Regions from separate parts of the Homo sapiens genome. Here region 2 is linked to region 1. A link means that fine-mapping ties the variant in region 1 to the expression of a gene that starts in the linked region. Tissue or cell type: gastroesophageal junction. Region 1 holds a variant in brackets; the other region holds the start of a gene. All regions are shown on one strand. Distances are from middle to middle.

What was found. PIP is the estimated chance that this variant, and not a neighbour inherited with it, causes the effect.
Region 2: MUC4 starts here. The variant in region 1 is fine-mapped to the expression of MUC4 in gastroesophageal junction (GTEx, PIP above 0.99).

What each region holds. Positions count from the first base shown.
Region 1 is chr3:196,214,053-196,219,195 of GRCh38, reverse strand. SLC51A (solute carrier family 51 member A) reads right to left here and starts at 2,662. Exons shown (of 9, transcript NM_152672.6): 1 at 2,446-2,662; 2 at 1,260-1,354. The coding sequence starts at 2,483. LOC124909479 (a long non-coding RNA gene) reads right to left here. Exons shown (of 4, transcript XR_007096240.1): 4 at 4,554-4,773. LOC105374304 (a long non-coding RNA gene) reads left to right here. Exons shown (of 4, transcript XR_001740544.2): 2 at 437-532; 3 at 4,852-5,011. The variant G/A (reference allele first, on the strand shown) is at 1,885.
Region 2 is chr3:195,809,901-195,815,043 of GRCh38, reverse strand. It overlaps MUC4 (mucin 4, cell surface associated), which reads left to right and starts at 3,115. Exons shown (of 25, transcript NM_018406.7): 1 at 3,115-3,308. The coding sequence starts at 3,227. RefSeq lists an enhancer at 4,855-5,143.

The DNA of each region.
Region 1 (5,143 bases):
GCAGTGCAGTGGCGTGATCTCGGCTCACTGCAACCTCCGCCTCCCGAGTTCAAGCAACTCTCCTGCCTCAGCCTCCCGAGTAGCTGGGATTACAGGTGCCCGCCACCACGCCTGGCTAATTTTTGTATTTTCAGTAGAGACGGGGTTTCACCATGTTGGCCAGGCTGGTCTCCAACTTCTGGCTTCAAGTGATCCACCTGCCTCGGCCTCCCAAAGTGCAGGGATTACAGGCGTGAGCCACCGCTCCCAGCCAATGCCTTTCACTTTCAAAAGTAATTCAGTAATAGAATCTTGTTGGCCAACACTGCGAGGACTTTTGCAGGTTCACCTATGTTTTTTTTTTTTTAATTACTGTTTTATTTGGAAAAAGTGCTTCTTGCAAAAGGGAAGCTGCAAAACAGAGACCTCTGCAACAATTACTTGTTTTTTCTTAAAGTGAAAGAATGGGTGGGATCCAAGGAATCAAAGCAGTAGATGGACGACCAGGAGCACCCCAAGTTATCTTCAGGAAACAGAGCGACAAAACGCAAAGGTAAAATTTCCAGTCAAGGAATTCTTCCAACAGCTGAACTTGAGCTGGCCTCGGGGATCCCCACACCCTCCCCTTCAGTGGACAATTATGACTTATTATTGCAAACAAATTACTCCACTACAATAAACACTGTAGAACAGGTTTTTGAATCCCATCTGTCCACCTGAGAGCTCAGGGGTGGAATGAGGCAAATACCCACAAACACACACACAAAAACCCGACAACAGAATGCTCCAGTGAGGACAAAGGTTTTTCAGAAAGGCTGGATCGTAAAACAAATACAACTGGTTCACCTGTGTGAAGCACGTCACTCACCGTAACCACCCTCTAGAGTGACATGGGTCCAGGGCGGATGCCGTGCAGCCCTCCAGGAGACCCGATGGGGCTTGGACCACTTGGGCACCATCTTGGGTCCCCAGATGGCTCTGGGGTCTGAAAAAGCGCCCCAGGTCGCAGTGTCCGCAGTTTGAATGAGCTTTGAGGCCAGTTTTGTGGAGGCCCAACATGACGGTTGCTCTCCGGAGCCAGGCTCTCATGCTACCCTTTTGACCCACTGACTCCTTGAGGCATTGCCCTTCTCCAGAGCCTTAACCACGATGACAGACACCGGGCCAGTTATTCTCCCCGGCTGCCCAGGTGCACCAGCTCAGGGCCGCCTCTCCCCAGCTCCACTCAGCTATCCTGGTTTCCCTCCTCTCAGTTCCCTCTGAGGAGGGTCCCCACTCACCTCTCAGGAGTTGGGCTGCTGTGGGAGGCTGAGAGAAGCAGGCGGAGGGGATGCCGTAATTGGTCTTCAGCACCTCCAGAAGATCTGCTGTGTACCTGGCGAGACACCAGCCTGTGCTCAGAACCATGGGGGCTGGGGGAAGGGGGAGGGTTGCACACTGGACCCTCAACCACTCCTGAGTGCAGGACTTTGTCCATTTCCCCTCAGGGCCTCTTTCTCTCTCTTTCTTTCTTTCCTTCCTTCCTTCCTTTCACTCTCTCTTTCTCTTTCTCTCTCCCTTCCCCTTCCCCTTCTCCTTCCTTCCTTCCTTCTGCTCTCTCTTTCTCTTTCTCTCTTCCTTCCCCTTCTCTTTCCTTCCTTCCTTCCTTCCTTTTTCTTTCTTTTTTTTTCTTTTTGAGACAGGGTCTTGCTCTGTTGTCCAGGCTGGAGTGCAGTGGTCTGTCTTGGCTCATACAGGCAGCCTTGACCTCCTGGGCTCAAGTGATCTACTCAACCCCCATCCCCATGAGTAAGCTGGGACTACAGGTGCACGCCACCAGGCCCGGCTAATTTTTTATATTTTTGGTAGAGACAGGATTTCGCCATGTTGCTCAGACACTGGTCTCGAACTCCAGGACTCAAACTG[G/A]AACTGGGCTTAAACTCCTGGACTCCCGCCTCAGCCTCCCAAAGTGCTGGGATTACAGGCGCCCGGCCTCAGGGCCCTTTTCTTAGAGGGAGTGGAGAACTGGCCCAGGTGGGGGAGTAAGACAAGCTGCCACCTAGCCAGGCTGTGCCTGGCTGCCGTGCCTGAAGAGCCCACCGTGGATTCTCTCCATGCGGGTCGGGCAGCAGCCCAGGGACTGACCAGAGAGGAAGAGCAGGATCCCAGAGGAAGGGTGAGTCCTTACAGACGGACGGGCCCCCTGCTGCTGAGGGATGCTGCCATTTCCTCTGCGAATGCCTTCCACAGCCCCCGCTCTGCGACCTTTCTCTCCCCACGCTGGGGGGCAAGGCCGAGGCCCTGGAGTGTCACACCCTGGCCCAAACCCACGTTGTCCCTGAGGACCTAGGAACAGCTAGAGCATTTCCAGTCCTGTCTCATTCTGAGTGCGGCCGCCAAAGGGCTCTGGGAGGGAGAGAGGACAGGCCGCGGGATAGGGGCCACCGCTGCCCAGCGACTGGCCCAGGGCCCGCCGCCCTCACTTACCTGGGGTCAAGCTTTATCTGGGTCCTGCCCGGCTCCATCGCCGCGTTCTCTCCAGCAATCCCGCAGGCACCGGGGTGAGGAAGGGCAGGCGGGGCGGGCAGGTGGGGGCCGGGGGCAGGGTGGCTTGCCTGGGCCGGGGTGGGGGGCAAGCAGAATTGCAGAGTCTTCCCCTCTGCCGCTCTCCCTCCTTGAGCTTCCCGGGCCAACTTTCTATCTCAGAGTTCACCCCGGAGGAATTTGATCCTCTAGGCTGGCGGAGTTCCCTGTGCCTGACTCGTCCCTGCCCCCAGGTGTGGTCCCTCCCACCTCTTGGACAGGTGCCTTTGGCCACCCCTTGCCTCTGGCCCGGCCCATCCTATAGGATTTTGCTGCCAGTCTGCCCTGCCCTTCCAGGAGCCTTCTGGGGTGGGGTGGGCTCACCACGAAGCCCCTGCCCTGGGCCGGGGTGGGGACGAAGTCCTCGCTCCTCACCGCAGTGTTCCCTGGTCAGCGGCCCCTGAAGAACCTGCTGGAACTCAGGCTTGGGCACTCTGCAGCGGGGAGACTCAGGGCTGAGGCCTCGGCCGTGTTTGGTGCTGTCAGCCTGATGTGTGGAAGGGAGGACAGGCTGGAAAAGCCAGATGAGGCCGGTGTGGGTTTCCCAGACCCCAGTTCATCACATCTGGATGATGGGCTTAGCCACCCCCACGCTGGGCCGGAAGATGCTGTATTTAAGAGGCAGAGTTGCAGAGTGAGATTGCTGGGCATTTGACAGGTCTTGAAAACCTGCTGAATTACAGGCTTGCAAACGATTTTATTGGCTGATAGCTTCCCTTTTCTCTCTCTCCACATAGACTGAAATCTCTTCGAAGCCAGACACAGCATCTTGTACTGTGGTACGGTGGTACCTCTAGGTTCCTGGCACGCAGCCTGACACATACGAAGGGCCCCTTAGAATTTGGTTGCATAGCTGATGAAAGCAGCCAGCGTCTGTCAGCATGTCTGGTGTGCCAGGGCCCGCAGGACATGCAGTGTGTTCCTTAGCTTATTTAAACTTTACCACCGCGTTACAAGGGAAGTAGTATCCTTATTCCCATTTTACAGATAAGGAGGCTGAGGTCCAGAGAGGCTAAGAAACCAGGTCAGACAGAAAGCTGTGGGGTGTGGAGAGCGGCCAAAGGGGCCTGGGGGAGGGGCTCTGTTGGGGCATGGTGGAGATGGAGGTAGTGAGAAGAGGGCCCAGGAGAGGGTGCAGAGGGTCAATTCTGGGAAGGGAGAGGGGGCTTCCTGCGCTGGGCTGGTGAGGCCATACAAGCAGTGGAAGCAGTCCCTGATGGGGTACCCGGAGGACTCCCCACTCCTGTGCCCAGACACCTCAAAGTCTCTCCCAAGAGTCAAGCTGCATCCCCCTCCAGCTTCCCCTCCTCCTAAAGTCCAGTTCCTGGGACAGGACAATGTCGTGAGGCAGGCGTCTCAGGGGCCAGCTGCCTCCTAAGGTGGAGGTCAGGGAAGGAAGAGGCCTGCAAGGGCCCTGACCCCCAGAGGGTCACTGGCCTCAGCCCACCCTGACAAAGACGCAGACTGACTCAGCTTCCTCCCAGCATCTCCGCAGGCACGTTCGCCAGGTCATTCACCCCCAGCCCACTGAGAGGCCTTGGGTTTAATTACCCAAAGCCCTGAACTTTAGACTTCCCAGAGCTGACAACAGGGCGCTGGGGATGTTCTTAGAAACTTCAGGACACAGTGGGGAATGGCAGGAAAGGTGAAAGGGCAGGAGGGAGCCGGGGGGGGCTGCGGTTGGGCTGAGACGGGTGCTTCCCCACTGGGCAGCAGAGACTGGGAGACCCCAGGAGAGACCGGCAGGGTGTCAGTGAGGGAAGGGGGCTTCTGCCCCACCCAAGGTCTCTACGGGGTTGTCTTCTGTACAGTGTGGCCCGGGATCCAGCCAGCGGGAGGCCCTGCCTGGAGGCCGGCCCATCCCCAGCTAAGGCTTGGTCAGAGAGGATGAGCTGTGGCCGCCAGGGTCTCCTCTTGGCAGTTGGGGCCTGCCAGCTCTCAGAAACTGATTTTAGAACCAAAAAGAATAAGTCCTTCTGAATTTCATTTCTTTGGCCTATTTTTTCCCACAAAATTATATGATAGCATCATCTGACACTTATTGAGACAGAGGAGGGATGGGACTCGGCTGCCAACTCCACTAATGCATTCGCTAATGCATTCCCCCCCCCAACATTTTTCTTTCTTCCTTTTTTTTTCTTACCTGCTCATTGAAGGACAGTGAAAGCATTAAGATAAGCAGCATTCCACTGTAAATCTTACACAAAATGCCACATCCACTGATCACACGACCTTGAAAAATGAAGATAGGCAGCGTCGCACTTCCAATCTTGTACTTCAGGGAATGAACTCCATTGCCTTTGTGTGCAGGAAGCCGGAAGCACGACCACTCTTTACCCTCGGCCTCATTACAAGACCAAGACCTCTGCCTCGGCGCGGCAGCTCTCACCTGGAATCCCAGCACTTTGGGAGGCCGAAGCGGACGGATCACCTGAGGTGTCAGGAGTTTGAGACCAGCCTGGCCAACAAGGTGAAACCCCGTCTCTACTAAAAATACAAAAATTAGCCAGGTGTGGTGGTGTAATCCCAGCTACTCGGGAGGCTGAGGCACGAGAATCGCTTGAACCTGGGAGGCGGAGGTTGCAGGGAGCCGAGATCTTGT
Region 2 (5,143 bases), 400 kb after region 1:
TTCACAGCACGAGGCATAAATGATATAAAGGTAAGCAATTTTAGGGGACCCAAAAAACTAGGGACTCCTACTTGGGTAGCTTAGAAGGGGAATCTCTCTTGGAGATCCTGGCTTTGCTGCCTCAAACCCAGCTGTCTCTTCAAGCCAAGTCTGGGAGAATCTCATGATCTTATCCTTGCTCCAATTTACTTACACCCCACATCCACACTAAGCTCTTCCTGCCTCCCGTGGAATATTAACTTACACCTGACTTCAGACTCCTGCCCCTATGCAGACCCAGCAGTATGCGGGCCTAGGAGGTTTTTCGGCCACAAGGAACTAGAGAAGCCACTCATTTTGTCCCCTCTCATTCACCCCATTCTGTCCCCATCGGATGCCTTGGGAGGAGAGAAGGAAGGACAAATGGGTGTCCCGTGACCCAACCCAGATGAAGACAGAGCCATTTATCACAGAGACCCAGACACATCCTAACTCTGGAAAATGGGCATATTGAGGGGAGCTGGAAAGCAGAAGGGAAACGGGCGTGGGCAGGGAAGAGGTGAACAGGAGTGCGCACGCCCAGTTCTCCAGGATCTCACGCTCCTAATCAGGATCCTATAAGACTCAAAGGGGACGCAGGAAAGACCTGGGCCTGGAAATTCACTTCCGGACTCCTCCTGTATCCTGGCTGGCCCTCGTTTGTGTCTCCCTCCAGGGATGATGCCCGGATGGAAGGAGGAGCCACGTTCCTCCACAGGTGTCCTCCACAACAGGTGTCCTCACAACAGGTGTCGTAACAACAGGTGTCCTCACAACAGGTGTCCTAATACTCCCGCAGCCCCTCAGCATCTACAGGCTCACTCCCACCCTACAACCTTTCAGATAGGTGTTATCCCCATTTTACAGGTGAACGAGGAAAACAGCTCGAAGAGGCTGTGACTTTGTGGTGACGCGGTGGCAGAGCTGGGATCAAGCCCAGGTTTGTAACGCCCTCCTGGAGTCTCGGCCGTCACAGCAGCTTCCGGAGAGCGCTGTGTGCCTCTGGCCTTCCTGGCATGGGAAAGAGGTCAGCTACCTGTGTTCGGTCAACAAGATGTCCAGCGCTTAGTTTGGTCTCACCTGGATGCTCCTTTCTCCTCTAGAGATGGAAAACTGTTGTCCTGAAAGCGTCACCAAACAAAACCTGTGGAAAGGTAATGGGGGGACCCACGAGCAAGAGCTGACAGAAAAATGACCACGGGCCGGGTGCAGTGGCTCACGCCTGTAATCCCAGCACTTTGGGAGGCCAAGGCGGGCGGATCATCTGAGTTCAGGGGTTCGAGACCAACCTGGCCAACATGGTGAAACCTCGTCCCTACTAAAAATACAAAAAAAATTAGCCGGGCGTGGTGGCAGGTGCCTGTAGTCCCAGCTACTAGGGAGGCTGAGGCAGGGGAATGGCGTGAACCCGGGAGGCGGAGCTTGCAGTGAGCTGAGATGGTGCCACTGCACTCCAGCCTGGGCGACAGAGCAAGACTCCATCTCAAAAAAAAAAAAAAGTGCAAAATGATCACGAAGGCCAAGCTGGGCCTTGGTGTCTGCGAATTCCCTGCAGTAGGTCCCTCCTGCTGCCCCGTCCAGGCGCCCACAGGATGCTCCACATGACTCTTTACCTTTATGATTTTCTTACCTCCAGGAAAGAACAGGGTCAGCTCGTCCACCCAGAGCTGGAGGGACTGTTGGGGGACCACGCCACTTCCCCACGGTATCCGCATTATTATGGCGTGGCCCAGGCTTTGGCCTGGGGCCATGAACAGACTTTCAGCTTCTAGAAGCAAGTGGTCACAGGGCCTCCGTGACCCTCGGAGACAGCGCCACAGCGTCGGTTGCCTACTCCTTGCTGGACAAGGCTGGCTCTGCTTGGGAATGCAGAAACCCTGAGTCCTTGTCCTGGGCCCCACAGTGTCTGAGCATCGAAGGTCCCTGCTCTGGGACGAGTCACCCCACAGACACCCCACATTCGGGAATCAAGTCTTGAGGAATCAGAAGCAGAGATTCACACTGTGGCAAAGAGGGGAGCGGAGGTATCCCCGTTTTCCTTTGCAGAGAGCTACACCAACTGCCCTCTTCGTCTTTACAACCCTACTTGGGGTCCCTTTCCCTCCTCGCTTGTGCCTGTGAGTTCCAAGAGGTGGAACTGGGGTGAGCAGAGCCCCCAGGTCTCCAGGAGCAGCTCCACCTCCTCACAGGTTACAGTCGCTTCCTCCTACCGAGGTTCTGCCTTCAACCCACTGCCCATGCCAGCTCCCTCAGGCCAGTCTCCCAGACTGTCCCTGGCTCCCTGCACCCTGGCTCCAGCTCCCTGCCCTGGAAAGAAGAAGTCCACCATCTGGTGAGGGTCTGCCACGCATCTGGGGTCTGCCATGCGTCTGCACTGAGGTTCTGCCACGAGTCTGCACTGAGGTTCTGCCATGCGTCTGGAGTCTGCCACGCGTCTGGGGTCTGCCACGCGTCTGGAGTCTGCCATGGGTCTGGGGTCTGCCATGTGTCTGGGATCTGCCGTGCGTCTGGGGTCTGCCACGCATCTGCACTGAGGTTCTGCCACGCGTCTGGGGTCTGCCACGCGTCTGGGGTCTGCCACGCGTCTGGGGTCTGCCACGCGCCTGCACTGAGCAGATATTCCAAGCACACCACCCCTTTCCAAAAGACGGCATACAGTGCATTTCTGTTCCTGCCCCTCACCCACATGGTTCCCCGCTTCCCAATTCCTTGGGGTCTGCTTAAGTCTCACTCTCTTTCCCCCATTCATACAGCCCCAAGGTCGCTCCCTCTGGGGCCCTTTCTTCCCCATTCTTCCCAGCAGCCCAAAGCTCTGGTGGGACAGGGGCAGCCCCTGGGGAGGGAGGAGAGGACCCAGGAACCCGGCTAGGAGGGTGGCCCACCCATTTCCAGTGTGACCTGTTCCCATTCCCCCATGTCTCCTCCCATCCCTCCCGCCACTCAGCTCAGGCTGATGAGAAGCAGAGCAACGGGTGTATCGGTGTTTTCTTTCCTGGTGGGGTAGTGGGGTGGGGCTGAGGAGAGAAAAGGGTGATTAGCGTGGGGCCCCGCCCTCTTTTGTCCTCTTCCCAGGTTCCCTGGCCCCTTCGGAGAAACGCACTTGGTTCGGGCCAGCCGCCTGAGGGGACGGGCTCACGTCTGCTCCTCACACTGCAGCTGCTGGGCCGTGGAGCTTCCCCAGGGAGCCAGGGGGACTTTTGCCGCAGCCATGAAGGGGGCACGCTGGAGGAGGGTCCCCTGGGTGTCCCTGAGCTGCCTGTGTCTCTGCCTCCTTCCGCATGTGGTCCCAGGTAAGTGATGGAGACAGCAGATGAGGCTGGCTGCGGGGAGCACTTGGGGGAGGTGGGAGCTGTCAGAGAAAGAGGTCCGGGGAGACAGAGAGAGAGAGAGAGAGAATAGGGGAAAGGGAGACAGCGAAGAGGAAGAGAAGGGAGAGAAAAAGAGGGAGAGGGAAAGGAGAAAGAGATGAATGGGACAACATGGGGGGAAGGTGGAGAGAGACCCAGAGAGGGAAAGAAGAGGAAGAGAAGAGGGAGAGAGAAAGAAGAGTGGAGGCCGTGCGCGGTGGCTCATGCCTGTAATCCCAGCACTTTCGGAGGCCAAGGCAGGAGATCACCTGAGGTCAGGAGTTCGAGACCAGCCTGGCCGACATGGTGAAACCCCGTCTCTACTAAATATACAAAAATTAGCCGGTCGTGGTGGGCCCCACCTGTAATTCCAGCTACTCAGGAGTCTGAGGCAGGAGAATCACTTGAACCTGGGAGGTGGAGGTTGCAGTGAGCCAAGATCGCGCCACTGCACTCCAGCCTGGGAGAGAGAGCGAGACTCTGTCTCAAAATAAATAAATAAATAAATAAATAAATAAATAAATAAATAAATATAAAATAAAATAAAAAATAAGAAGAGGAGAAAAGTGGGGAAGAGGAGGCATGAACTGGCAGATACGGGACAAGATCTGAGGGGAAAGACAGAGGGAGAATGCTCGAAAGAGAGAGAAAAGAGAACAGAGGGCCAGAGAGCAGCCCGGCGATGTCTGGAAGGATCCATGGTGAGAGCCCAGGCTTACTCGCAGAGAGAAAGACAGGCAGAGCCAGAGCAAGAGGAACAGAGTCAAGGAGAAAGATGTACACCCTTGTGTACAGAGCTGGGGGTAGAGGGGATGCCAGGAAAGCTGGGTGATGGAGACGGAAGAAAACTCATGTAAAGCTGCAGGGTGAGAGGACGAGACAGGTGAGACGCAGACAAACTGAGGACCCTGGGAATGGAGAGAGGAGAAGATCGGGAGACAGCAGCAAGCAAGGGAAGCGACAAGGAGGAGAGGGGCAGGCCGGCCGGGAGGGTGGTGCGGAGGAGGCGGCCAGGGCGCAGAGGGCCGGGAGGTGCTGGCCGTGGGCTTCTTACCTCTGAGCTCGGGTTTAAAAGCCTCCATTTGGGTCACGGCCTTGCCTGGGGCTCGTAGCCCCGGCATTGGCCTTGGGCTCCTCCGTGTACAGAGCTGGGAGGGGAGGGATGCCAGGCCTGTGGGAGATGTTCCCTCGGGGGCCCCCGTCCTCTTCCCCACACTTTCCAGGCTGTCCCTCTGGCTTCAGGACCAAGTTTTATTCTGTGTTTCTGGGTGTCTGAGTCTTTGGGGGAGAGTCTGGGGTCCAGAGTTCAAGCTGGGGTTAGAGTCTCAGCTCCTGCCCTGCCTCTCAGCAGGCTAAGAACAGTCGCCGAGGGAAAATATTTCTTGGGCGCATATTTGAGGAGCTTCCTGGGAGTGAGTCAGAAGGCGAGTGCCGTTTAAAGGCTGCAAGAGAAGCCATGCTGGTGAAGCGGACCCTTCCACCTCGGGATGTTTCAGGACTAGGCTGAGGGCAAAGGAAACTGCCACCACCTCCCTACACCTCCCCACCCTCCAGCACCCCCACCCCACCCTGGCCACACAACCCCGCTCCAGTGCTCATCCCACCGTGAGGACGTGGAGGCCGGAAGGAGCCGCCACACGGCCCTGCCCTGCAGATGTGGTTGAAGGAGTCTCCACGGGAATCATGACTCCCAGAGCGAGGCTGGGGCTTGGGGCGCCGGGGAGGCAGCTTGGATTTAGGAGCCCCAGGGCCAAGTCTTTGCCGTGAACTGTTCTGGC